7 linked regions of the Homo sapiens genome follow. The protein of the gene in region 1 purifies or fractionates together with the protein of each later gene. This does not show direct contact. Each region holds a gene or a part of one and is shown in the gene's direction. Other genes may lie near its edges.

The links.
Region 2: the proteins of U2SURP (region 1) and METTL2B purify together in Homo sapiens (pull-down; one large-scale study listed by IntAct). This does not show direct contact.
Region 3: the proteins of U2SURP (region 1) and WASHC4 fractionate together in Homo sapiens (co-fractionation; one large-scale study listed by BioGRID). This does not show direct contact.
Region 4: the proteins of U2SURP (region 1) and PFKP fractionate together in Homo sapiens (co-fractionation; one large-scale study listed by BioGRID). This does not show direct contact.
Region 5: the proteins of U2SURP (region 1) and ODF2 purify together in Homo sapiens (co-immunoprecipitation; one large-scale study listed by IntAct). This does not show direct contact.
Region 6: the proteins of U2SURP (region 1) and SUGP1 purify together in Homo sapiens (affinity purification with mass spectrometry; one large-scale study listed by BioGRID and IntAct). This does not show direct contact.
Region 7: the proteins of U2SURP (region 1) and KIFBP fractionate together in Homo sapiens (co-fractionation; one large-scale study listed by BioGRID). This does not show direct contact.

The regions. Positions count from the first base shown.
Region 1 is NC_000003.12:143,032,570-143,036,069, forward strand, and holds part of U2SURP (U2 snRNP-associated SURP motif-containing protein), read left to right. Parts: intron 1-214; coding exon 215-377; intron 378-701; coding exon 702-781; intron 782-2,318; coding exon 2,319-2,406; intron 2,407-3,412; coding exon 3,413-3,500.
Region 2 is NC_000007.14:128,490,248-128,493,747, forward strand, and holds part of METTL2B (tRNA N(3)-cytidine methyltransferase METTL2B), read left to right. Parts: intron 1-3,500. UniProt on the Homo sapiens protein: S-adenosyl-L-methionine-dependent methyltransferase that mediates N(3)-methylcytidine modification of residue 32 of the tRNA anticodon loop of tRNA(Thr)(UGU) and tRNA(Arg)(CCU).
Region 3 is NC_000012.12:105,114,231-105,117,730, forward strand, and holds part of WASHC4 (WASH complex subunit 4), read left to right. Parts: coding exon 1-39; intron 40-131; coding exon 132-197; intron 198-953; coding exon 954-999; intron 1,000-1,430; coding exon 1,431-1,498; intron 1,499-3,500. UniProt on the Homo sapiens protein: Acts as a component of the WASH core complex that functions as a nucleation-promoting factor (NPF) at the surface of endosomes, where it recruits and activates the Arp2/3 complex to induce actin polymerization, playing a key role in the fission of tubules that serve as transport intermediates during endosome sorting.
Region 4 is NC_000010.11:3,098,548-3,102,047, forward strand, and holds part of PFKP (ATP-dependent 6-phosphofructokinase, platelet type), read left to right. Parts: intron 1-727; coding exon 728-805; intron 806-2,373; coding exon of another isoform or gene 2,374-2,453; intron 2,454-2,817; coding exon 2,818-3,007; intron 3,008-3,500. UniProt on the Homo sapiens protein: Catalyzes the phosphorylation of D-fructose 6-phosphate to fructose 1,6-bisphosphate by ATP, the first committing step of glycolysis.
Region 5 is NC_000009.12:128,469,506-128,473,005, forward strand, and holds part of ODF2 (outer dense fiber protein 2), read left to right. Parts: intron 1-1,802; coding exon 1,803-1,963; intron 1,964-3,407; coding exon 3,408-3,500. UniProt on the Homo sapiens protein: Seems to be a major component of sperm tail outer dense fibers (ODF).
Region 6 is NC_000019.10:19,279,022-19,282,509, reverse strand, and holds part of SUGP1 (SURP and G-patch domain-containing protein 1), read left to right. Parts: intron 1-2,218; coding exon 2,219-2,325; intron 2,326-3,119; coding exon 3,120-3,297; intron 3,298-3,488.
Region 7 is NC_000010.11:68,995,303-68,998,802, forward strand, and holds part of KIFBP (KIF-binding protein), read left to right. Parts: intron 1-3,500. UniProt on the Homo sapiens protein: Activator of KIF1B plus-end-directed microtubule motor activity. Required for organization of axonal microtubules, and axonal outgrowth and maintenance during peripheral and central nervous system development.

The DNA.
Region 1 (3,500 bases):
AATTGGAATCTTATTCTACAGAGTATTCTTATATAAATTCTTCAAAAAATTGTAACAATTTTGGGGGACACAACACAAATCAGACTGAATGTATTACAGTCTTCAGAATTATTTTATGTGAGTAGGTTTTAAAGAAATTAGTTTGTGAGCAAAAGCTACAATGGCATTTGAAATTGTATCTAAATATTTATAAGTTAAAACAATTTATGTTCAGACAGAGGGATAAATTGGAAGAAATCTTGCGGGGATTAACTCCAAGGAAAAATGATATTGGAGATGCAATGGTTTTCTGTCTTAATAATGCTGAAGCTGCTGAAGAAATAGTGGATTGCATTACTGAGTCGTTGTCCATCTTAAAGACACCCCTTCCTAAAAAGGTATGGGAATGAATTTTAAGAAAAGGGGAGATAGTTGACGTCTTTTGGGATTAGAATTGGTTTCCTTTTTGCACAAAGCACTTGACTGATGAGATTTTTCCCATGCAGTCTTATGTTATTTCTGCTTGGAAATTTAGGTTCATTAACATACAAGTTAACAAACAAGTTGAAATGTAAATGGGTTAACAAATTTCATCTCTGCCAGAGTCATAGTTGTGGTGATACTGAGCTTCATATAACTCTTCTAATTAGTAGCCATAATTAAATTATAGCTAAACATTAGCCTTATATTAACCTATTTTGTGTTATCTTTTGATATTATAGATTGCCAGATTATATTTGGTTTCTGATGTTTTGTACAACTCTTCAGCCAAAGTTGCTAATGCTTCATATTATAGAAAATTGTAAGTATAATGATATAACTGATATTCCTGAAATAAAGTATTTAAGGGTAAGGAGTTCAGAAAAGAGGATTGTTTTGTTAACATCCTGCAAGAATAAGAAGTACAGTCAGCCCTCCATGTCTGTGGGTTCCTTATCCATGAATTCAACCAACCATGAATTGAAAATATTTGAGAAGAAAAATTGTATCTGTACCGAACCTGTACAGACTTTTTTCCTTGTCATTTTCTAAACAATATAGTATGAAAACTCTACATAGCATTTACATTGTATTAGGTATTGTAAGTAACCTAGAGATGATTTAACAGATGGGAGGATGAGGATAGGTTACAGGTGAATATTATGCCATTTTCAATCAGGAACTTGAGCATCTGTGGATTTTGGTGTCCATGGGAGGTCTTGGAACCAGTCCCCCCATGGATACTGAGGGAAGACTAATTTGAATTTCTTAATGGTTTGTAGAATTTTTTAAAAAATTGGCTTACACTTAAGCTAAATTACCAATTTTTTGGAAAGATTTTATATCATATCACTTTCTTAGCTATTGACAGTATAACAAATAGGTGTTAAAGAGAACTTTATTGCATATCTAGCTATTCATATAATAAATAGAAACAGTGTATATACTGGCAAACATAAGAGACCAAAGACATACTATTAACTATAGAATCTGTGTTCTCTTCTGATCCTCAGCATATTGATTTTAGTTCATTGTAAATGTTTCCTAAGGCAAAAGGAAGTTACGTTGCTGTATTATAATTAATGTATAATTCAGCTGGGCACAGTGGCTCACGCCTGTAATCTCAGCACTTTGGGAGGCCAAGAAGGGCTGATTACCTGAGGTCAGAAGTTCGAGACCACCCTGGCCAACGTGGTGAAACCCCATCTCTAGTAAAAATACAAAGATTAGCTGGGCGTGGTGGTGTGCCTCTGTAATCCCAGCTACTCGGGAAGCTGAGGCAGGAGAATCGCTTGAACCCGGGAGGCGGAGGTTGCAGTGAGCCGAGATGGCACCATTGTCCTCTAGCTTGGGTGACGAGCAAAACTCCATCTCAAAAAAAAAAAAGTATAACTTTTCCTCTGTTCCCCAGAGCTCTCTTTCTGTGTTTATTTTATGAATTAGGCAAAGGGAAGCTTTTCCCTAGGATGTTGCTCTGAAAAGAAATTTAGAGAGCTGGATCCTACTCTTAGGTCTGCTATTAGTTTTTTTGCCTTGGACGAGTCACTTTTCTAAGTTTTCTGTTTTATAAAATAAAGAAATTGGACGAGATGGTTCAGCATATCCTAGATATAACGTTTCTTGCTCGTAAAGGGAACTAGTAGGGACTGTTGGGGAGTTTGTAGGAGAAAAATTCAGAGTAATAAGAGTTCAAGCAATTCAGTTACGGTTTTAGAGTTTAAACACCTAGTTTTTGATTTTTAATAATTTCTTGATTTGTAAGTATTTTAAGTTCAGGAGGGGTTTTCATTGGCTGGCATGCTAAAAGGGAAAGGAATTTTAAACATTTTATTTTAAAGAATGTGTTATTTGAATTTCAGTTTTGAAACAAAGTTATGTCAGATATTTTCAGACCTCAATGCCACCTATCGTACAATTCAAGGCCATTTACAATCTGAAAACTTTAAGGTACGTTTATTGTTTTACTATTTTTGCCCTAGTGTTTTAAATGGGTGGGGGGAGGGCATTGAAGGGCTAGAAAAGTGCATAAGACAAGTATGAGACATAAATTTAAAACTTAGATGTTACAGAAGTTACTGTTTTAAAATTCTGTCGTTTTTGTTTTTATCAAATCAAAAATTTAAAAGATACTATTTTGTCAGGTTTAATTTTAGTTTTAAATATTGTTTAAAAATTATAAATGTTAGTCTTTTTTCATAAAACATACAGAAGAATCACTTGTTTTGTAATGGTATATACTATTTGGCTGGATTAAAGACATACATTTTAATCATGTTTAGAAAGTCTATTCTGTTACCAATTTTTTTATAACCTCTTAAGCTCTAGACCAGTGTTAAGAAAAGCCAAGTGTAGTACTTCACTTATAATTGAATAAGTAAATATGCTTTCATGGGAAGAAGACTTTTTTAAGAAAAATTTTTAGTTTCGGAAGATGCCCAGTGACGCCACCATTTAGGGCATTCAGACAACTCCCATTTTAAAAGTTTTTGACCTTAAATTTTGACCATAAGTTAGAATTTAAAGACAAGTTTCAGGAAGATACAGAGTAAAGTATTAGCCAGAATTAGGAAGTACTTTATTGGACCATAAGGGATTCAGGTCAAAACTTGGCTACTTTGGTTTCCAGTTTTAGTAAGTTTCTATGTAAGTGTTTCTGGAATGTGGCTCATGGGTAGTACTAATGGTATGGGAGCTGACCTTAGGTGGTAAAGAGCAAATAGTTACTGTTTATTTTTCATTATATTTATTTTTAGGGGTTTTTTTCCTTTTAATTAGAAGGTGACATTGATTTTTTTAAAAAATATGGTAATGATATATAGTTATTTTCTTTAAAGTTTAAAAAAACATCAGTTTAAAGGCAAATTTAGCAAATCTTGATGATCATTCTCATGAACTGAAATTTGAGACATATAGCCCAAAATAAAAGTTTGTTGTCTGTTTCCTGTTTCTTTAGCAACGGGTAATGACTTGCTTCAGAGCATGGGAAGATTGGGCAATTTATCCAGAACCATTTTTGATCAAACTACAAAATATTTTCTTAG
Region 2 (3,500 bases), on another chromosome or scaffold:
AAGAAAGAAAGAAAGAATAAGACTAAAAAAGAAGAAGCAACAAGATTGCAGCAATTCAGTTACATCTTCAGGCTTCACTTTTTTTTTTTTTTTTTTGAGACAGGGTCTCACTGTGTTGTCCAGGCTGAAGTAGAGTGACACAATCATAGCCCACTGTAGCCTTGAATTTTGGGCTCAGGCGAACCTGATGAGATGATTCCATTGGGGTTCTTTGAGTTACAAGTAACAGAAACATCTAGACAAACTCAAAGCAATAAAGTAGAATGTCATAGAACCTAAGGGCACAAAATACAGCCCCAAGTTCCTGGTATCTTACCTCTCATTGTCCAGGGCCCATTTGTTTTTTCCCTCTTTGCATACCAGTTTTCTCTAGTCAGTATTTCCTAGTTTTGCACGTGGCCCCAACGTGCTTGCTTCTTCCAGTCCCTTACAAGCTCACCCTGTTCAGGGGTTCATGGTGCCTCACTAAAATGATTGTGTCCCAGTTCTGAAGTCCCTGGAAAGTCTAGTTAACACAACCTAGCTGATAAATACAGCAGCCCTGTTTGAATCAGCTTTGGCCAATGAGAAACAAACTCACATATTTGGAGAAGATGGACATTGAGGGTAGATGCCTTAAAATGTATCTGTTATGGCTGGGTGCAGTGGCTCACACCTGTCATCCCAGCACTTTGGGAGGCCACGGCCAGCGGATCATGAGGTCAGGAGTTCGATACCAGCCTGACCAATATGGTGAAACCCCGTCTCTACTAAAAATATGAAATTTAGCTGGGTATGGTGGCACGCACCTGTAGTCCCAGCTACTTGGGAGGCTGAAGAATCGCTTGAACCCAGGAGGCAGAGGTTGCAGTGAGCCGAGATCGTGCCACTGCACTCCAGCCTGGGTGACAGAGCAAGACTCCATCTCAAAAAAAAAAAAAAAAAAATGTGTCTGTTACAATTGGCCAGGCGTGGTGGCCAGCACTTTGGGAGGCTGAGGTGGGCAGATCACTTGAGGTCAGGAGTTCAAGACCAGCCTGGCCAACATGGTGAAACCCTGTCTCTACTTTAAAAAACACAAAAACTAGGCCGGGTGCAGTGGTTCATGCCTGTAATCCCAGCACTTTGGGAGGCTAAGACGGGCAGATCATCTGAGGTCAAGAGTTCCAGACCAGCCTGGCCAATATGGTGAAACTCCATCTCTACTAAATACAAAAATTAGCCAGGTATGGTGGTAGGTGCCTGTAGTCCCAGCTACTCGGGAGGCTGAGGCAGGAGAATCGCTTGAACCTGGGAGGCAGAGGTTGTAGTGAGCCAAGATCACGCCATTGCACTCCAGCCTGGGCTACAAGAGCGAAACTCTATCTCAAAAAAAAAAAAAATACAAAAACTAGCAGGACGTGGTGGCATGCACCTGTAATCCCAGCTACTGGGGAGGCTGAGGCAGGAGAATTGCTTGAACCTGGGAAAGCAGAGGTTGCAGTGAGCTGAGATCGCACCACTCCAGCCTGGGCAACAGAACAAGACTCTGTCTCAAAAAAAAAAAAAAAAAAGGGTCTGTCACAATTATGTATAATGCTGTTAGGGCAGATTAGGAATTGGTAGTGCCATGCTTTTAGAATTATTCATGCAGTTAAAGACCAAATGAATATTGAAGCCTATCTTTACTTCAGTTTTTGATAACAAAGTAAATTTTCTACATCTACAGAAATAGATTTTCCTGAAGAATTCTATGGTTTGTGTAATATTTTCTAGTTGGGAGTTGTTTTGAATCGTGTACTTTGTTGTTTGTTTTGAGACAGGGTCTCAGTCACTCAGGCTGGAGTGCAGTGGTACAATCAAGCTGACTGCAGCCTTGATCTCCTGGGCTCAAGTGATTCTCCCACCTCCTGTGTAACTGGGACTACGGGCACATGCCACCACACCTGGCTAATTTTTTTTTTTTTTTGAGATGGAGTCTAGCTCTGTCGCCCAGGCTGGAGTGCAGTGGCGTGATCTCGGCTCGCTGCAACCTCCGCCTCCCAGGTTCAAGCGATTCTCCTGCCTCAGCCTCCAGAGTAGCTGGGATTACAGGCGGGTGCCACTGCACCCAGCTAATTTTTTGTATTTTTAGTAGAGACGGGGTTTCACCATGTTGGCCAGGCTGGTTTTGAACTCCTGACCTCAGGTAATCCGCCCACCTCGACCTCCCAAAGTGCTAGGATTACAGGCCTGCACCTGGCATTTTTTTATTTTTTGTAGAGATGAAGTCTCACTATGTTGCCTAGCTGGTCTCAAACTCCTGGGCTCAAGTGATCCTCCTGCCTCAGCCTCCCAGGGTGCTGGGATTCTAGGCGTGATCCACTGTGCCTAGCAGATCGTGCTTTTGGTTTGTTTGTTTGTTTGTTTGTTTGTTTGTTTTTGTTTTTGAGACGGAGTCTCCCTCTGTTGCCCAGGCTGGAGTGCAGTGGTGCGATCTCGGCTCACTGCAAGCTCCGCCTCCCGGGTTCACGCCATTCTCCTGCCTCAGCCTCCCGAGTAGCTGGGACTACAGGCACCTGCCACCACACCCGGCTAATTTTTTGTATTTTTAGTGGAGACGGGGTTTCACCATGTTAGCTAGGATGGTCTCCATCTCCTGACCTCATGATCTGCGCGCCTCGGCCTCCCAAAGTGCTAGGATTACAGGCGTGAGCCACTGCGTGCTTATTTAAAGTATGTGCTGTCTCTCTCCTTATGAATGTTTTTTTTTTTCCCTGTTGGTCACTCATTTTCATGATCGTTTTCCAATTCTTAGATCTGACTTCATGCATGAGAAGTACAGAAAGTACACAAGAATAAAGAATAAAAGTAGGGGAGTCAGGAATGTTCTATTTTAAACGCAACTATTAGATTCCTCACTGTCTCCCTTCAATTATTCCTGATCTTTACTCTTTGAGTCCTCCCTGAAATAACATGCTATTAGATTGATGCAAAAGTAATTGTCGTTTTTGCCATTACTTTTTTTTTTTTCTTTTCTTTTTTTAGACGGAGTTTCACTCTTATTGCCCAGGCTGGAGTGCAATGGTACAATCTCGGCTCACTACAACCTCTGCCTCCTGGGTTCAAGCGATTCTCCTGCCTCAGCCTCCCGAGTAGCTGGGATTATAGGCATGCGCCACCACACCCAGCTAATTTTGTATTTTTAGTAGAGATGGGGTTTCTCCATGTTGGTCAGGCTGCTCTCGAACTCCTGATCTCAGGTGGTCCTCCCGCCTTGGCCTCCCAAAGTGCTGGGATTACAGGCATGAGCCACCACATCCTTGCCATTACTTTCAATAGCAAAAACCACAATTACTTTTTCACCAATCTATATAATGATTAGAAATATATCCCCTACTCTGGAGGGTGAGGCAAGTGATCCTATCGCGTGAACCCAACAGTTTGAGGCCAGCCTGGGCAACATGGGGAGATTTTGCCTCAAGAAAAAAAAGAAAAAAGAAATAGATCCCTCTTCGTGAAGTAGCAACAGTTACATTTAAAATTTAAAACAAGATAATCTT
Region 3 (3,500 bases), on another chromosome or scaffold:
CAGTCCTCTCTTTTGGAACTCATAAAGACTGAAAACAAGGTACAGAATCCTAAATCTAAAAAATTGTTTTAAAAATGTTTTAGTTATCTGTAACAATTTACTTTTTATTTTGTTTTTACTCATGAAACTAGGTCTTAAACAAAGTCATCACTGTTTATGCTGCACTTTGTTGTGAAATCAAGAAATTAAAATATGAGGTAATTATTTGAATTCTTGTCTTAAAACTTTAAAAACATCATTTAGAAGCAAGTATGTGTTTATATATGTACAGTGTGCAATAAATATTTATTGAATGTTGAATGAATTATTTATTTAACGTAATACTAATACGGACTACCATTCATTGAGTACTTAGTATGTACAAAACACCAGGCTAACACTGTAATCCTTATAGTAACCCCAGGAGGTAGGTGAGACATTGATGAGGAAACTGAAGCTTAAAGAGAGTGTCACTTGCATAACATCTTACTGGTAGTCAACAGTTTGAATCTAGGTTTACAAACCTCCAGAGTTTGTGTTACCTGCCATATATACTGGCTATCTAGAGAAAACTGATTTTTTTTTCTTAAAATGCATTTAGTTTTGTGTTTCCTTACCCAAGAACCATTAAAAGTCTGGTAGAAGTTGACAAACTTCGTATTTTCTTCTCCTGCTTTTTGATACCATGTGGTTGCTCTTTATTTCCCATAAACTAATGGGAGGATGTGGGACAGTGAGGGTGGTCAGATAAGATGAAGTAAAGGCTAAAGGAATCAAGATACAGCTTTGAGTATCAGTAATATTTTTGTTACTCTAAAGATGAATTGCTTTATAAACAGATTTTGAATTTAAATGAATTTGTATGCAAATGATGTAGCCCTCTGTTTATTACTAAGTATACAGATCTAAGAGAGCATAGGAATTTGGAAACAAAACAACCTTTAAAATTATTTTAATTTTTTTCTTAAAAACAGGCTGAAACTAAATTTTACAATGGTCTCTTGTTTTATGGAGAAGGAGGTAAGTTTAAAATTCCAAATTGTGATGCCTTTTTGATATTGAAATGAACAAAAAGTTAACAGACAATTTTAGGACTACTATGATTATATAATAGTGTGAGAAAAATAAGTATTCATATTTTTTGTTGGTATGTTTGGTAAACAGGTAAAAAAGCTGAGGAAGCAGCAGCAAATTTGTGATATCTTTGTACTTTACGAAGTACTGTAGGTAGATGAGAATTTTCCTTGAATTCATTAAATAGTGAAGCAAATACTTCTAATTATTTGATTAATGATTGTCTGATTTTTCTCTTTGGTGTAAAAATTCTGTTTTCAATACTATGCAGAGTAAAAGATGTCCTAATGAAAAAAAAAAACTTTTCCCCCTTTTTTGGTATTGATTGAGTTTAAATTTAAAAAATGAAATATGCTTATTCATGTTGCCTTTTACAGCTACAGATGCCAGCATGGTGGAAGGTGATTGCCAAATTCAAATGGGGAGATTTATTTCATTCTTACAGGTAACTGATTTTTACTTTCTACTGAGCTTTTACTTCAAAAAGTTTGAGTAAATTACACAACACGTAAAAAGTTCTGAAACCTTCAAATACTAAAGATGTGTACTCTGAGGATAAGACACTTAATTAGCATTGGATTATAGTTTAGGAGATCATAACTCCTAAAAGATTTCCAAGTATTTTTAGAGGAAAAAGCTATCAAAATAAGTTTCTTTGTGTATATTTCTTTATGGACAACTTGTCACCATGCCTTTTAAAATAATTTAAACTTTGTACCCACTGGAAAAGATAAATTGTATCAGGAAAAGTTGTTAACGGATAGGAGAGAATTAAGCTATTACATGAGCAATGATGAAGTTGTTTAAAGCGGTAGCCCTCCATGCTTCTAACAGCTTGTTTCAGTTTAGATAGCTTCTCATCACTGCCAGTTTTAATGATTGTAGGTCCTTTGGTTTACTCTTATCAAAAGAATAAAATGGCTTCTATTTCCTCCTCTGTGATAAAAATAGTGCATGTACGATGTGAAAAAGCAAAAATTGAAGCTAAGGAAAAAATACCCATAGTCCCACCTCCTTTCTGTTGTTGAGTACAAGATTTGATATATTTCATCAAATTAGGCATGCTAACATACTGTTCAAATCTTTTATATCTTTACTACTTTTTTTGGTCTAATTGATCTAATTGAGAGCATTTTGTTCATATTGTGATATGTGTTATTCAGGGTCCTGTCTAGAAAACTCCATACAAGGTATTTCAAAAGATGTAGTTTGGAGGATACAAAGTAGCAGATATGTAAGATGAGTAAGTCTAGAGATCTGATGTACAACATGAAGATTACAGGTAATAAAATACCGTATATGGCATTCATGCTGAGTAGATTTTAGCTGCTTTTGCTACAAAAAAATGGGTTAGCTATGTGAGATGATGGATTTGCACTTGACTATAGTAACCTTTTTATTATCGGTATGTATCCCATAACATGTTGTATACCTTAAATATACACAATAAAATGTATTTAAATAAGAAGAGAGGGGATTCAATATAGAGAATTGGTTACCCAGGAGTTGGAGGACAAAGAAAATACTGAGGTGTAGTCCAAAGGAAACAGATACCTCCTTTACATCCAGAGAACAAAAAGGATAAAGATTGGGATTGCCAGGATCTGGGAGCTTGGAGAAGAAGCCCCATGAAACTGATGCCTATGCTGAGGTGGCACTGCCTATCTGCTGCTGGCTTCTTTTCCAGCAAGGTGTCTAAAAAATGTAGTTGGTAAGGTCCCAGTAAATGTGGAAACTTTGCATTTTTCATTTTGAGGGTATTTTATTCAGTGTGTACAAGTTTAGAATTGTTAATCATTCCTGGTAAATTGAATCTTTTATCATCATTTGTGACCTTCCTTAGCTATGATCATGATTATGTGTATATGATTATGTATATGTATTTTACATGCATAGCAATTTACTGTACTGATGCTAATCAAGTCTGTTTTGTCTGACAGTATAATAATAATGCTGCCCTGGCTCCGTTTTAGTTAACATTTTCTTGATTTATCTTTTTCCATTCTGGCAGCCTTTCAGTGTCATGTTTTAGTTGGGTTTATTTAAAACCACATATATCTAAATTTTGCTTTTTTAATGTAGTCTGACAATACCTGTTTTTTAATCGCTTAATTTATTCTGTTTCTAGGTCTATCTTATATAGTCTGTATGTATATCTGGGCTTGTTTCTGCCTTTTTACTTTGTTCTTTCTGTTTGTCCTACATTTTCTCTGCTTTTTTTAAACTTCTAGAAGTTTAATAGGACATGTAAAACTATAACTATTTAAAAATAAAATGCGTTATTTATTTTCATTTTAAAAAATACTTTACATCATATTTAGATCTCACAGCTGCATAAAAATTCCGTTTTTAAACATTCAACAAATATGTTTTGTAAGCCTAGTATATGCTAGAAACTGTTATTGGTGCTGGTGATATAGCAATGCACAACACCAACAGAAATTCCT
Region 4 (3,500 bases), on another chromosome or scaffold:
ACCTGTAATCCCAGCTGCTCAGGAGGCTGAGGCAGGAGAATCACTTCAACCCGGGAGGCAGGTTGCAGTGAGCCGAGATCGCGCCACTGCACTCCAGCCTGGGTGACAGAGTGAGACTCCGTCTCAAAAAAAAAAAAAAAAAAGGTAATTGTCCTTGGGCTTCTTCTATCAATGTGTCCTCACATATTGATATCTGATTCCCTAATGCAGCACCGTGTCATTAATGGAGGGTAAGGCAGACAATTATTATTCAGCTGTGCTGTTTAATAATATTCAACATACATCCCAAGTGGCGCAGGGTGCCTTGGCAGGCGGAGCCCCTGACAAAATGCTCCCATGTATGTCCCGTGCTCGACAGTGCTGTGTGCCTGTGAGTTTGTGCTGAAGTATGATAAACACGTTGGGTGAAAGTGACCCCTTTCAACCTCTAGCGAAACACGACCCTTTCAACCTCTCGGGAAACGCTGGGCCATAGGAGAATGGCTTGATTCCTCATTGCACTGTGAGGCTGAGTCTAGGCAGACGTTCCCATTACTAGGGACTCAAGGTGAGGACTTTCCCACAATTCACTGCTTTTATCCAGTGCTGGAACTGCCCTGTCTTCTGACCAGTGGATGCTGAGGAACTGACATTCACTGTCATTTTTCCCGTTTTATATAATTTAAGGATCACTTCCCATTTAGTGAAGTTTATCTCATTTTTAAAAGATTCTCCCTTTCTCCCCTAGGGCTACCAGGGCATGGTGGACGGAGGCTCAAACATCGCAGAGGCCGACTGGGAGAGTGTCTCCAGCATCCTGCAAGTGGTAGGTACTGGGCTGCGTCCACAGGGTTCTCTGAGTTAGAGACTCTTTTATGTCTAGTAAATTCCCAGAACACTTGAGCTCAGATCAGTTGCGAAATAGAGATTATGTGGACAGAACAGACTTTGTGAGCAGCTCTTTACTTGTGGTTTGATTTTTAGAAATGCATGTGTTAATCTGTGAGTCACTTTGAGTACTTGTTAATAGAAATAATCCAAATCGGTGCCTCCCCGCTGAAGACGCTCATGGGGCCCACACCTTCGTGCTGGTCCAGGCTCTCTCTGCATTGGGCGCCTCCTGAGCTCCGACACATCAGAAGAGAGGTGGAGGGAATTTTGACAACCACGGAAGTTAGGTGGAGCAACGTTTGCAAAACATCAGGAGAGTGTGGGCTGAATTCACACAGGGGAGCGTTTCCATTCTGCGGTCGTGATTGACGGAGGAAGATAAGATGTGAACGGAGAGTTGAAGTGCGTATGTGTATCAGTGAGTCTGTGTTTCTGTGTGTGGTGTATGTGGTGTGTGAATCTCGGTGTGTGTGTAACTGTGTGAGTCTGGTGTGTGTCTGTATGTAGGTGTGTGAGTCTGAGTGTGTATGTGTGGTGTGCCCGTGTGTATGTGTTAACTGTGTGAATTTCTGGCTAGCGAATGTGTATCTGTGTGTGGGGTGTGTGTATATGTGGTGTCCTTGTATGTGTAGGTGTGTGGTGTGTGTGTGTGTGTGTGTGTGTGTGTGAAAGAGAGTGAGTGAGAGAATGGGAATGGCACCCACTCCTCTGCAGCCCAGTTATCCTGGTTTCGTTCCTGAGTTGCGGCCACCTCGTCTCTTTGGTTGGAGTTTCTGGGTTGCTGGCTCTAGCTCCCATTGTGCTGGCTCTCGTGCTGCCCCCCAGGTTTTTGTCCAGGCAGAGTCCAGAGAGCACCCCTGCCCTGCTCTGCGCCCCCACCCTCACTTGCCTTGGGGGTTGGGTTGTAAATGGTCTCGGTCACACTTGGTGCCAGTGACGTAGGATCGTGTGGAGTGAATTTCAGTTTTTGTAACCTTTTCATAATGTTTTGATAAATTAAATGGTGGTAGGTTTCATGTAAAAATAGGAGCTTTTCTGGGATTTGGAATATTAGTGAGTCTCTGTGTGTGAAAATGAGCTGTGTGCGTGCACCATTGGTGTATCGAAACACGCACTCACGTCACTGCAGGGGTCTCCTGGGAGCTGCCTGCAGACCGAAGGCAGGGAGAGCTTCGCCTCCAGTGCAGAGACAACCCCTGCTGTGCTTATGAGCACCTTGCTTGACAAAGTCAGCACGCGCTTAGGGATCCCGTACGGATGGAGTTTTTTGGTGCATTCATGGTTTTATTTAAAGAAATCTTGCATTTGTGGATCCCACCAACAATTCTTAGTTTTTGGAAAACCAAGTGTGACGAATCATGATCTATGTCCCCTGGAAGTTTGGATGAAAGAATTTAAGATCCTGAAGATATAGCTCTTTAAAAGGGGCAGCGAGTATGTGGTGCAAAAAAAAAAAAAAAAAAAATCCCCCTGGCCCCAGGTTCCTGCTGGTTTTACTTGCAGGTGCTGTAAGGGGTGACTGGAGGGAGAAGCCTGGCTGCTGGTCACACCGCTTCCCTTGTCCTGGCCGGCATGCTCTGGTGGTCAGTGGGCTTGTCTTTGGTTCCACGTGCACCTGGTTGAGCTCGTTGGCCGGTGCTGAGGCGGCTGCTGTGACACCGCAGGCTGGTTCCTGCTCCATGTATTTAACTGCTGGCTGCCGTGTGTCTGGCTCTGCACCCTCCCTGGCTCCTCCTGGGTGTCACGCGCCTGTCTTTGTCCATGGAATGCTGGTCTGGGACTAAAAACAGGAAAATCACAGTCTTTCATAGCTAGTTACTAACTCACAAGATGAAAATGAGAAAAATGTAAATTCTAGCACCCCATGTTTATAGTCGGCCTGTGTGTGCCATCCACCTGGCGCTCTCTCAGACTGAGAGGAGATAAATTAGCTGGTGTCTTTCCCAGGGCGGGACGATCATTGGCAGTGCGCGGTGCCAGGCCTTCCGCACGCGGGAAGGCCGCCTGAAGGCTGCTTGCAACCTGCTGCAGCGCGGCATCACCAACCTGTGTGTGATCGGCGGGGACGGGAGCCTCACCGGGGCCAACCTCTTCCGGAAGGAGTGGAGTGGGCTGCTGGAGGAGCTGGCCAGGAACGGTGAGTGGACACCTGCTCCTCTGTCCTGCGGGTTTTCGCCCTGTTTCAGAGCTTTGGAACCGACAGGTTTCCCTCTTCACTGTGGCAGAAGTACCTCTTCTCACAGATCTTACAGGTCACCATCTCAGGACTTTTTAGGATCTCAAAAAACAACAGCAATGATCGTAAGAATGCTAGTAATTTAACCTTACCATGTGCCAGGCACCCTTCGACCTTTCACACAGATAGCTTTATGGAATCCTCACGACAGCCATCTAAGCCAGGTTTTAGATCATCCCATTTACAGATGAGGAATCAAACGGCCACTCAGCCGTGGGGCGAGCCGGGTCCCCAGCAGCCTGGGACACTAGCATCCGCCTTTCAGCCCTCACACTGTGTCCCTCCAGCTCGCTGGGGTCCTTTAAAACTGAAGTTGGGCCGGGCGCGGTGGCTCACGCCTGTAATCCCAGCACTTTGGGAGGCCGAGGCGGGCGGATCACGAGGTCAGGAGATC
Region 5 (3,500 bases), on another chromosome or scaffold:
TAGCTGGGGCAGCATGGGATCCCATCCCACCAACAAGGGCCCTCTCTATTGAGCATGTAGCTGTCCTGGTGCTCCACATGGGTGGTCCAATTTGAATTTTTACAACAGCATGTGAAGCCAGTGGTGTTACTGTCCTCATTACAGAGATGAAATACCTAGGAAACTAGGGCCTATGCCTTCCGCTTTATATAAGGTTTAACAAAAACAGGCCGGGCATGGTGGCTCACGCCTGTAATCCCAGCACTTTGGGAGGCGGATCCCCTGAGGTCAGGAGTTCGAGACCAGCCTGACCAACACGGTGAAACCCTGTCTCTACTAAAAAACAAAAATTAGCCATGCGTGGTGGCGTGCACCTGTAGTCTCAGCTGCTCAGGAGGCTGAGGTGGTAGAATTGCTTGAACCCAGGAGCCAGAGGTTGCAGTGAGCTGAGATTGTGCCATTGCACTGTAGCCTGGGCGACAGAGAGAGTCTCTGTCTCAAAAAAAAAAAAAAAAAAAAAAAAAAAAAAAAAAAATATATATATATATATATATATATATATAAATAAAAAAATTAACAAAAACAAAGCCCCAAAGAGGCCAAGGAAGTTTGTCCTCAGTTGCCGTGCTCTCTCTTGGGGTGGGATGTGACAATGGAATTGGAAATAGAACCTGGAAGTCCAAGGTCCCCAACTAGGAAATTGGCAGAGTTGTCATTAAAATCCAGGCCTTAGACTTGGATTGCTATGTCAGCCTATGTCTTCACTGCTAACACGACCTGTGTCTTTAATCCTCCACCCTGTACTCGAGGTCCAGGGAACCTCCTGGAGAACCTAGGGCTGGCTGCCTAGAATAGGCCCTTCTTGGCCAGGCGTGGTGGCTCATGCCTATAATCCTAGCACTTTGGGAGACTGAGGAGGGCAGATCACTTGAGGTCAGGAGTTCAAGACCAGCCTGGCCAACATGGTGAAACCCCATCTCTACTAAAAATACAAAAATTTGCCAGGCACACGCCTGTAATCCCGGCTACTTGGGAGGCTGAGGCAGAAGAATCACTTGAACCCAGGAGGCAGAGGTTGCAGTGAGCTGAGATCGTACCGCTGCACTCCAGCCTGGATGACAGAGTGAGACCCTGTTTCAAAAGAAAAAAAAAAAAAGCCCTTCTTCCCCTATAACTCAAAGTGCAAGAGCCTTTTTGTGACATCTCTCCTCCTATGGTGTGCCAGCCAAACCACGGTTTGCAACCTGGCTTCGTTCCCAACCCACAAGTCACTGGGGCTCTCTGTACTGAGTTTCCTCATCTACAAAAAGAAAATCAGCATCTCCCAGGAGAGTCAGTCTTCATGGCAGTTAACTGAGATTGCACCCATAAGGCCCTGGCATGCAGCCTGTGTAGTTCTCAATTGGAAGGCTCCTTATTTTTTTGTTTTTGTTTTTTTTTTTTTGAGATGGAGTCTCACTCTTGTCCGCCCAGGCTGGAGTGCAGTGGGCACGATCTCGGCTCACTGCAACCTCTGGCTCCTGGGTTCAGGCGACTCTCTTGCTTCAGCTTCCAGAGTAGCTGGGATCACAGGCATGTGCCACCACATCTGGCTAATTTTTGTATTTTCAGTAGAGATGGGGTTTCACCATGTTGGTCAGGCTGGTCTCGAACTCCTGACCAAAAGTGACCTACCCACCTTGGCCTCCCAAAGTGCTGGGATTACAGGCGTGAGCCACCACGCCCGGCCGGGGCCTTATTTTGGTCCAAAGCATTGAGCCTAGCAATGTGGCATAGAGGAAGGACCTCCCTTCAGTGGCCCCTGCCTGGGTCCCCCTGCTCAGGTCAAGATGCAAAAAGGTGAGCGCCAGATGGCCAAAAGGTTCCTGGAGGAACGGAAGGAAGAGCTGGAGGAGGTGGCCCACGAACTGGCTGAGACTGAGCACGAGAACACGGTGTTGAGGCACAACATCGAGCGCATGAAGGAGGAGAAGGACTTCACCATGTAAGGTGGCTCCTGCTCTGTCCCCGCTGATCTATTCCTCCCTACCAGGCTGCCTTGAGCCCTGGGCAATAATGGAAAGCAACGTAGGAGGTGGGCACAGGCACTGTGCCTGTGCCCTGGAGCCTGTTCAACAGTCACACAATTAATTACAGTTAATTACCTGGTTGTGCTTATGATTTGTACTATGAGGGAAAGGGAGGACCCCGTGGATTGTGGTGTGGGACTGGGTAGCAGGGAACTGTTTCTGGAACAAGTGATATTTAAGGGGTGTCCTGCAGGATGGTTAAGCATTCGGCAGGTGGGTGCTAGGGAAGAAAGCACGCTACTCAGTGGGAACATCTTATGCGAAGGCCCCAAGGTGGGAAAGTGTTTGTAGCTGAGAAATGGAAGGCAGGCCAGAGTGGGTGGGCAGAGGATAAGGGGGCCACATAGGTTGGCAGGGGGCTGGCTCTCAGCAGCCACTTTGAGGCATTTGCATTGAGGGCATTTGGAAGCCATGGAAAGGATTTATTTTATTTAATTAATTTATTTGGCCGGGCGTGGTGGCTCACGCCTGTAATCCCAGCCCTTTGGGAGCCAAGGCGGGCAAATCACAAGGTCAGGAGTTCGAGACCAGCCTGGCCAACATGGTGAAACCCTGTCTCTACTAAAAATACAAAAATTAAGCCGGGCGTCGCGGCGGGCGCCTATAATCCTAGCTACTCTGGAGGCTGAGGCAGGAGAACTGCTTGATCCTGGGAGGCATCTCAAAATTTTTGAGATGGAGTCTCGCTCTGTCATCCAGGCTGGAGTGCAGTGGCGTGATCCTGGCTCACTGCAATGTCCGCCTCCTTGACTAAAGTAATCCTCCTGCCTCAGCCTCCCAAGTAACTGGAATTACAGGTGCCCACTACCATGCCCGGCTAACTTTTGTATTTTTAGTAGAGATGGGGTTTTAGCTGTTGGCCAGGCTGCTCTCGATAACACCTGATCTCAAGTGATCTGCCCACCTCGGCTTCCCAAAGTGCTGGGATTACAGGCTTTAGCCACTGTATCCAGCCTACAGCCATGGAAGTTTTAAAAGCAGGGAGGTGGCCTGACTAGCCTTGGCTGCAGTGTAGAGAAGAGGTAGAAGGGCTCAAAATCGTATCTGAAGATGGTGCGTAGGAGGGCGTGACAGTGGAGGGGGGCAGTGCAGAGATGACAATGGTGGCTGTTTGAGAGAAACAGGGCCACAGGTAGCTAATGTCTCCTGGTGTGGAGGCCCTGGTCTGGTGCCCAGGCAGATGTAACTTCTGGCCCTGGTCCTTTCTGAAGGCCACCCAGGCCAGAAGGGCTGTCCCTGCCCCCTCCCCTACTTTTCCCTGACCAGAGGTGAGCCCCCTAGGGCATTGTGAGGCAAGCCTTGGATCTCTGGGCATGCGGGGGCCTGGGAGGGCTCACAGAGCCGTCTTTCTGGCCCCAGACTTCAGAAGAAACACCTACAACAGGAGAAGGAGTGCCTCATGTCCAAGCTGGTGGAGGCGGAAATGGATGGGGCTGCGGCTGCCAAGCAGGT
Region 6 (3,488 bases), on another chromosome or scaffold:
CCATGAAGTGATTCCTGACTGTATTTGTGTCTTTGGGTCTGAATTGAGTCTCTTTTTTTTTTTTTTTAACATAAATAGAGATGGGGTCTTACTATGTTGCCTAGGCTAGTCTCAAACTCCTGGGCTCAAGCTATCCTCCCACCTCAGTCTCCCAAAGTGCTGGGATTACAGGCATGAGCCACCACTCCCGGCCAGTACTTGGATTCTTTCTTGTCACAGAAAGTTCAGGAGGCTGGGTGTGGTGGCTCACGCCTGTAATCCCAGCACTTTGGGAGGCCAAGGTGGGCAGATCGCCTGAGGTCAGGAGTTCAAGACCAGCCTGACTAATATGGTGAAACTCCGTCTCTACTAAAAATACAAAAATTAGCTGGATGTGGTGCCACGTGCCTGTAGTCCCAGCTACTTGGGAGGCTGAGGCAGGAGAATTGCTTGATCCTGGGAGGCGGAGGTTGCAGTGAGCCAAGATCGCACCACTGCACTCCAGCCTGAGCGACAGAGCAAGACTCCATCTCGGGAAAAATGAAAGAAAGTTCAAGAGACAGACAACGATAAGCACAATAATTACCACAGTTTTACACAATCACCTTTTCACCTCTCCCTTCTTAGCAGCAATTTCGGGGAGGGCCAGCCTATGGCCTGGTCTCTCATTTTCTTACCAAACCTACAAGGGTTGGGGGGTGGTCTCTTGTCATTGCATTCTGCAGATGATAATCAGTGACTGACACCCACTATCTCATGTCATATGGTGCCCCACTATGCAGCTATGCAGCCTGCACTGTGGAGCAGAAACATCACCCCCTCACTCCACCTTCACTGGCGCTCAACACACAGGTGCATGGAGGAGTCCGACGTGCCCTGTTGTGTGGCGCCATCACCTGTGTTTGCAAGATGAGGACAGGACCCCAAAAGGGAAGGCGACAGCCTTCCCAGGTCGGGTGGCCAGCCTCTTGGACCTGCTCGTCCAATTCAGGGATGATTGCTTTCTCGGTGCCTCCCTGGCCCCAAGGGCCTCAGAGATTCTAGGTCAAGGAGAAAAGCTACTGAATGAAGATTCTTATGCTTACCAGGGCTGTAGCCAGCAACTGCAGCCAGGGTGGAGGGTACCTAGGATTGGTTTGTCACTCAAGTGCCGAACCCTAGTGCTTAGATCCGGGTGCTTCAATGCGCACACACCCCAGCTCTGAGACACCCAGCAGGTGAAGAAGTCGCCCTGTGGCTTAGTTGGACAGAACAGGCTCCAAAGTCTGAGGCCCAGGTTCAAGTCCCACTGATCCATGTCCTCAGGGAGCATGGCAGCCCTCACCCGCCCGCTCATGTGGTGGAGTGGGCCTGGGGGAAAGGGACTGTGGGCATGCTCTAAGGCAATCAACCAGATGCTCAGACTTCGGCTCCTGCGTCTCCCCAACAGGGCTCCCCCACATCCCTCAGTGCCCTGTAAACCAAGGAAGGACTAAGAGTGCAAATGTGGGCCATTCTTAGCGGCAAAGCCCGAGTGTTGATGAGCTGGAAGGACCCAAATCTTTTCCCTTCCCAGAGGGCCCGCTGCACCCCTTTGCTCACCTTCTCCCCCGGGAAGCACCGCACCGCCCGAGGGGTGGTGGTTTCTGCCACCCGGATGGGGCTGTTGCAGCATCTTTCTATGTGTCAGTGTTACTGGAGCCTGCCAAGTTCCACAGCTGATGCCAAATTAAATGTCAGCTGCTCTGAGGATGGTTGGCTGCCTCCCCTGAAGGAGCTAAGGGAGTCGCACAGCTGAGTCTTACGCCAGACTCTGAATCTGTGCGCGCTTACACCTGGTGTCTGTTAGCAACGGAGCTGCCTTCTGAGAGCCCGTTTGTGCGTGCGCCCATGCATGCTGCCCACATGCCGTCTCAGCTCTCTTGTCTCTGGCTCTGCAAATTCCTGCCCTGTCACTCGTTAGCTGTGTGACCCTGAGTGAGTCCCGGAACCTCTGATTCTTGGTGTCCACATCTGCAATGTGGTGGTGCGTAGAGCCTGGCTGGAGAGGTCACAAGGACGTAAGATGCGGGGGTGCACGTGGCAGCACACAGCGGGACCCCGAGGCCGTCACGTACCACGTGGCACTGACAGTAATGATATGAGGTCCCCGTGTGCCTGGAGTGTCATGAAGGTGTGAGACTCACAGCACACCCCAGCGCAGGAGCGAGATCGGGGTGCACCTGTCAGGCTCTGACTACCCTGTGTCTTTGGTTTCCAGTTCAGGACCTCAAGGGGCTCGGCTATGAGAAGGGGAAGCCTGTGGGTCTAGTGGGCGTCACAGAGCTTTCAGACGCCCAGAAGAAGCAGCTGAAGGAGCAGCAGGAGGTAAGACTGCGGGGACAAGGGGACGGGGACATGGTCGGCGCCCATAGAGTGTTGTCCTCTACCCCCGGGTGCAGCGGTCACAGGGGTTCATGTGCTTCGCCAAGCTCCTGTGTTCAGGTGGAACCCATGGCCAGCGGGGAGGCTTCCAGGCAGGCAGGTCCCCCTGCCCCAGTAGGTGGCATGCCACCCCCCACTGCACCTGAGTGGCCTCTCAGCCTGCCTGGGAGACCACTGGCCCTTGGGGCGGCCCCGGTGGTCTGTGATCCTGGCCTGAGCTTTGTGGCTGCTTCTCGCCGCGCTCCAGGGCTGGTTCCCATGGGAGAGTCTACGTTGATGTTCTTTGTCCGCAGTCCTCTGTCGTGTCTAGTGCAGGACCATCCTGGTCAGCACAGGGCACCCTGAGGGACTTGAGGCCTCCCAGTTGTAGTTGGGCAGTGTCGGTGTTGGCTCCCCTGAGGAGCTGCAGGCGCTTGCCTGTCAGTCCCTGGGGTCAGCTCGCTGTGACCCCTCCTCCAGGCCCGCAGCCCCGTCACATCACCCTTGACCCTCCCAGGGGTCAGGACCCTGAGTCACCCTCATTCAGTGGCCAAGAGGTCCTCCGTGCTCCACACTGGGATTTAGAGAACCCAGGGCAGTACTCAGTACTTGCTAGAGTCCTTGCTCCAGTCCTGCCCAGGGGTCCAGATGAGCCACGTTCCGGCGGGGGATGCCCAGCACTGGAGGCGGGGAGCAGGAGCGGGGCTCCGGCAGGCCACAGCACCGTGCCCTGGCTCACTGGCGAGTGTGCCCTGCAGATGCAGCAGATGTACGACATGATCATGCAGCACAAGCGGGCCATGCAGGACATGCAGCTGCTGTGGGAGAAGGCAGTCCAACAGCACCAGCACGGCTATGACAGTGATGAGGAGGTGGACAGCGAGCTGGGCACCTGGGAGCACCAGCTGCGGCGCATGGAGATGGATAAGACCAGGGGTATGTGGGGCAGCGGGGTGGGCCGGGCTGGGCTGGGCATGGCCCCCCTCACCTGCCCTGGAAGGTTACCTGGATGCGCCACACGTGGTCTTGAGCTGCCATCCTGGTTTAGCCCCCAGCCTGCTTCCTGTGGCTGTGAGGCCTGGAGTGAGAGGCTCAGTCTCTCTGGGGCCTAGTTTTCTCCGTGGTGA
Region 7 (3,500 bases), on another chromosome or scaffold:
TGTAGAATTTTATATAAATGAAATCATATTGTATATACTCTTGTTTTGGTATACCTTTTTTCCACTCAACATCGTTATTTCATTCTGTATCTACTGAGCTGATCGTGTCTTTTCATTTTCAGTCTGTTAATAGGGTGGATTACATTGATTTTTGTAAATGTTAAACTAATCTTGCATTCCTGGGATAAACTCCATTTGGTCGTAGCGTATTCTTTTTATATATTGTTGAACTGAATTCACTAAATTTTTGTTTAAAATCTTTGCATCTGTGTTCATGAAGGATTTCAGTCTGTAGTTTTCTTGTTATATCTTTGTTTAATATGAGATGGGAAGTGTACTGTCCTTTTCTCTTTTCTGGAAGTGTTTGTGTAGTGTTGGTGTTAAACTTCATTACATGTTTGGCAGAATTTACCAGTAATACTTTTTTAGCTGTTTTTATTTTATATTTTACTTTTCTCCTTACCTAGTTTGATAGTGGCAAGGATATGATATGTGAAAGATGCAAGACCTTCCATTGTAGCTTTTCTACCCTTAGTAGGATTTATATTGTATTTAAAGAATAATTCACATAAAGGCTGGGCACGGTACCTCATGGCTGTAATCCCAGCACTTTGGGAGGCCAAGGCGGGTGGATCACTTGAGGTCAGGAGTTTGAGATCAGCCTGGCCAACATGATGAAACCCCATCTCTACTAAAAATACAAAAATTAGCCAGGTGTGGTGGCAGGTGCCTGTAATCCCAATTGCTCAGGAGGCTGAGGCACAAGAATCGCTAGAACCCGGGAGGCGGAGGTTGCAGTGAGCCAAGATCATGTCACAGCACTCCAGACTGGGCAACAGAGCAAGACTCTATCTCAAAAAAAAAAAATGGTAATAATAATTCAAATAAAATGTCAATAGTGATTATCTCTGTGGAGTCAAGCTTTAAAAAAAAAATCCAAAACACCAAACCTAATTTAATTTTAAAAATAAAGGTGGGCCGGGTGTGGTGGCTGACGCCTGTAATCCCAGCATTTTGGGAGGCTGAGGTGGGTGGATCACCTAAGGTCAGGAGTTCAAGACAAGCCTGGCCAACATGGCAAAACCCCGTCTCTACTAAAAATACAAAAATTAGCTGGGCGTGATGTTGGGCGCTTGCAATCCCAGCTACTCTGGAAGCTGAGGCAGGAGAATAGCTTGAACCTGGGAGGTAGAGGTTGCAGTGAGTTGAGATTGTGCCACTGCACTCCAGCCTGGGCGACAAGAGGGAAACTCTCAAAAAAATAAATAGGCTGGGCATGGTGGCTAACACCTGTAATCCCAGCACTTTGGGAGGCTGAGGTAGGTGGATTGCCTGAGGTCAGCAGTTCGAGACCAGCCTGGCCAACATGGTGAAACCCCGTCTCTATTAAAAATACAAAAATTAGCCGGGCATGGTGGCGCATGTCTGTAATCCCAGTTACCCAGGAGGCTGAGGCAGGAGAATCGCTTGAACCCAGGAGGTGGAGGTTGCAGTGAGCCAAGATCGTGCCACTGCACTCCAGCCTGGGCAACAGAGTGAGAGACTGTCTCAAAAAATAAAATAAAATAAAAAATATTTTGGCCAGGCGCAGTGGCTCATGCCTGTAATCCCAAGACTTTGGGAGGCTGAGACTTGAGTCCAGGAGTTTGAGACCAGCCTGGACAACATAGTGAGACTTTGTCTCTATTTGAAGAAAAATAAAATAAAAGTGATTTGATCATTCCACTGGAACATAGCACTTTGGTCTTCCGGCTTTACAAAATATATCCATTGTATATATATTTTTTTAAGTGACTTGATCAGTCCTCAGTATCCAGGACTATAGGTCATACTGATAATGTTTTGAGATTGGATAGTTCTCTCCTCTATGTTACTTATGAGGTCCTTTCCAGGACCTCATTAAACTACATAAGTAATAGAGGCTTGACATAATAGAGGACCTTATTAAACCTCATAAGTAATAGAGACTTGAAGGGTGATATGGTTTGGCTCTGTGTCCCCACCCAAATCTCATGTTGAATTGTGATCTTCAGTCTTGGAGGAGAAGCCTGGTGGGAGGTGACTGGATCATGGGGGTGGATTTCGTCTTGCTGTTCTCATGAGATCTGGTTGTTTGAAAGTGTATAGCACTTCCTTCTTTGCTCTCTCCCCTTCCTACTCCAGCCATGTAGAATGTTTGGGCTTCCCCTTCACCTTTTGCCGTGATTGTAAGTTTCCCGAGGCCTCCCCAGCCATACCTCCTGTACAGCCTGTGGAACTGTGACCCAATTAAACCTCTTTTCTTTATAAAGTATCTAGTCTCAGGTAGTTCTTTATAGCAATATGAGAATGAACTAATAGAAAGGGCTCTGCCTTCCTAATAACTTACTGATTGTAATTTCCTGATCTTAGACCTACAGGCCACCTTTTCCTTACTCTTTAGTTCAACTTATTTCTCCTTTGATGATAGACAGTGCTTGGGAAACTCCTTTGACCATGACACCAGTAAGCCCCACTGCAGCACACTGCAACTAACCTAGGTAGTCTAGAGACTCACCTAGTACCAGAAACTGGTTAGTCACACTCTATTTTTGGGACAGGGTTGTGTTTGGCCTGCTATATTCAGGGTAGACTGTGCCACAGAAAGCAACAATTCTTGGTATGTGACAAATCTGAAACCATGAAACCATGATTGTAAGTTTCCCGAGGCCTCCCCAGCCATACCTCCTGTACAGCCTGTGGAACTGTGAGCCAATTAAACTTCTTTTCTTTATAAAGTATCTAGTCTCAGGTAGTTCTTTATAGCAATATGAGAATGGACTAATACAAAGGGCTCTGCCTTCCTAATAACTTACTGATTGGTCATGTTACATGTTAGTCAGGCTGGTCTTGAACTCCTGACCCCGTGACCTGCCCGCTTCAGCCTCCCAAAGTGCTGGGATTACAGGCGTGAGCCATTGCACCCAGCCCAAAAGATTTTTAAAACAAAATGTGTGATATAGTAATATATATGCTTCTTTATTAACACATTATATAATGTGTCTAATATCTATGATGATTGTAAAGTAATGATGAGCATAAATGATATTTTGAGATATCTGCAAACTAGCATAATAGAAAGGTTTTTTTTTTTCATTTCTATTGTTCACAAAGTCCCAGGTCCTATAATACTGCTACAATTTATTTCCTGTGTTCATAATGAAAAGAAATGCTGTATTTTAATAGGAGATTGGTGAAAAGAAATTTGTATTTTTTTCCCTGTCCAAATTCATGGACTCTGAATTCTCTTTATGGATGCCTTGGGGATCCTTAGACTTGAGGTTAAGAATTTCTGCATTAAAAACTTCCTTCCCTAGTGGCAAAAGATGGTAGAAGGCCAGCCTCAGAAGTATCCTTGTGCCTGAAGGACTGACTATTCCAAGGGAAGTGAGGTAGACTAACCCCACTACATACATACATACATACATACATATATGTATATATATATATATTTTTTTTTTTTTTTTTTTTTTGAGACAGAG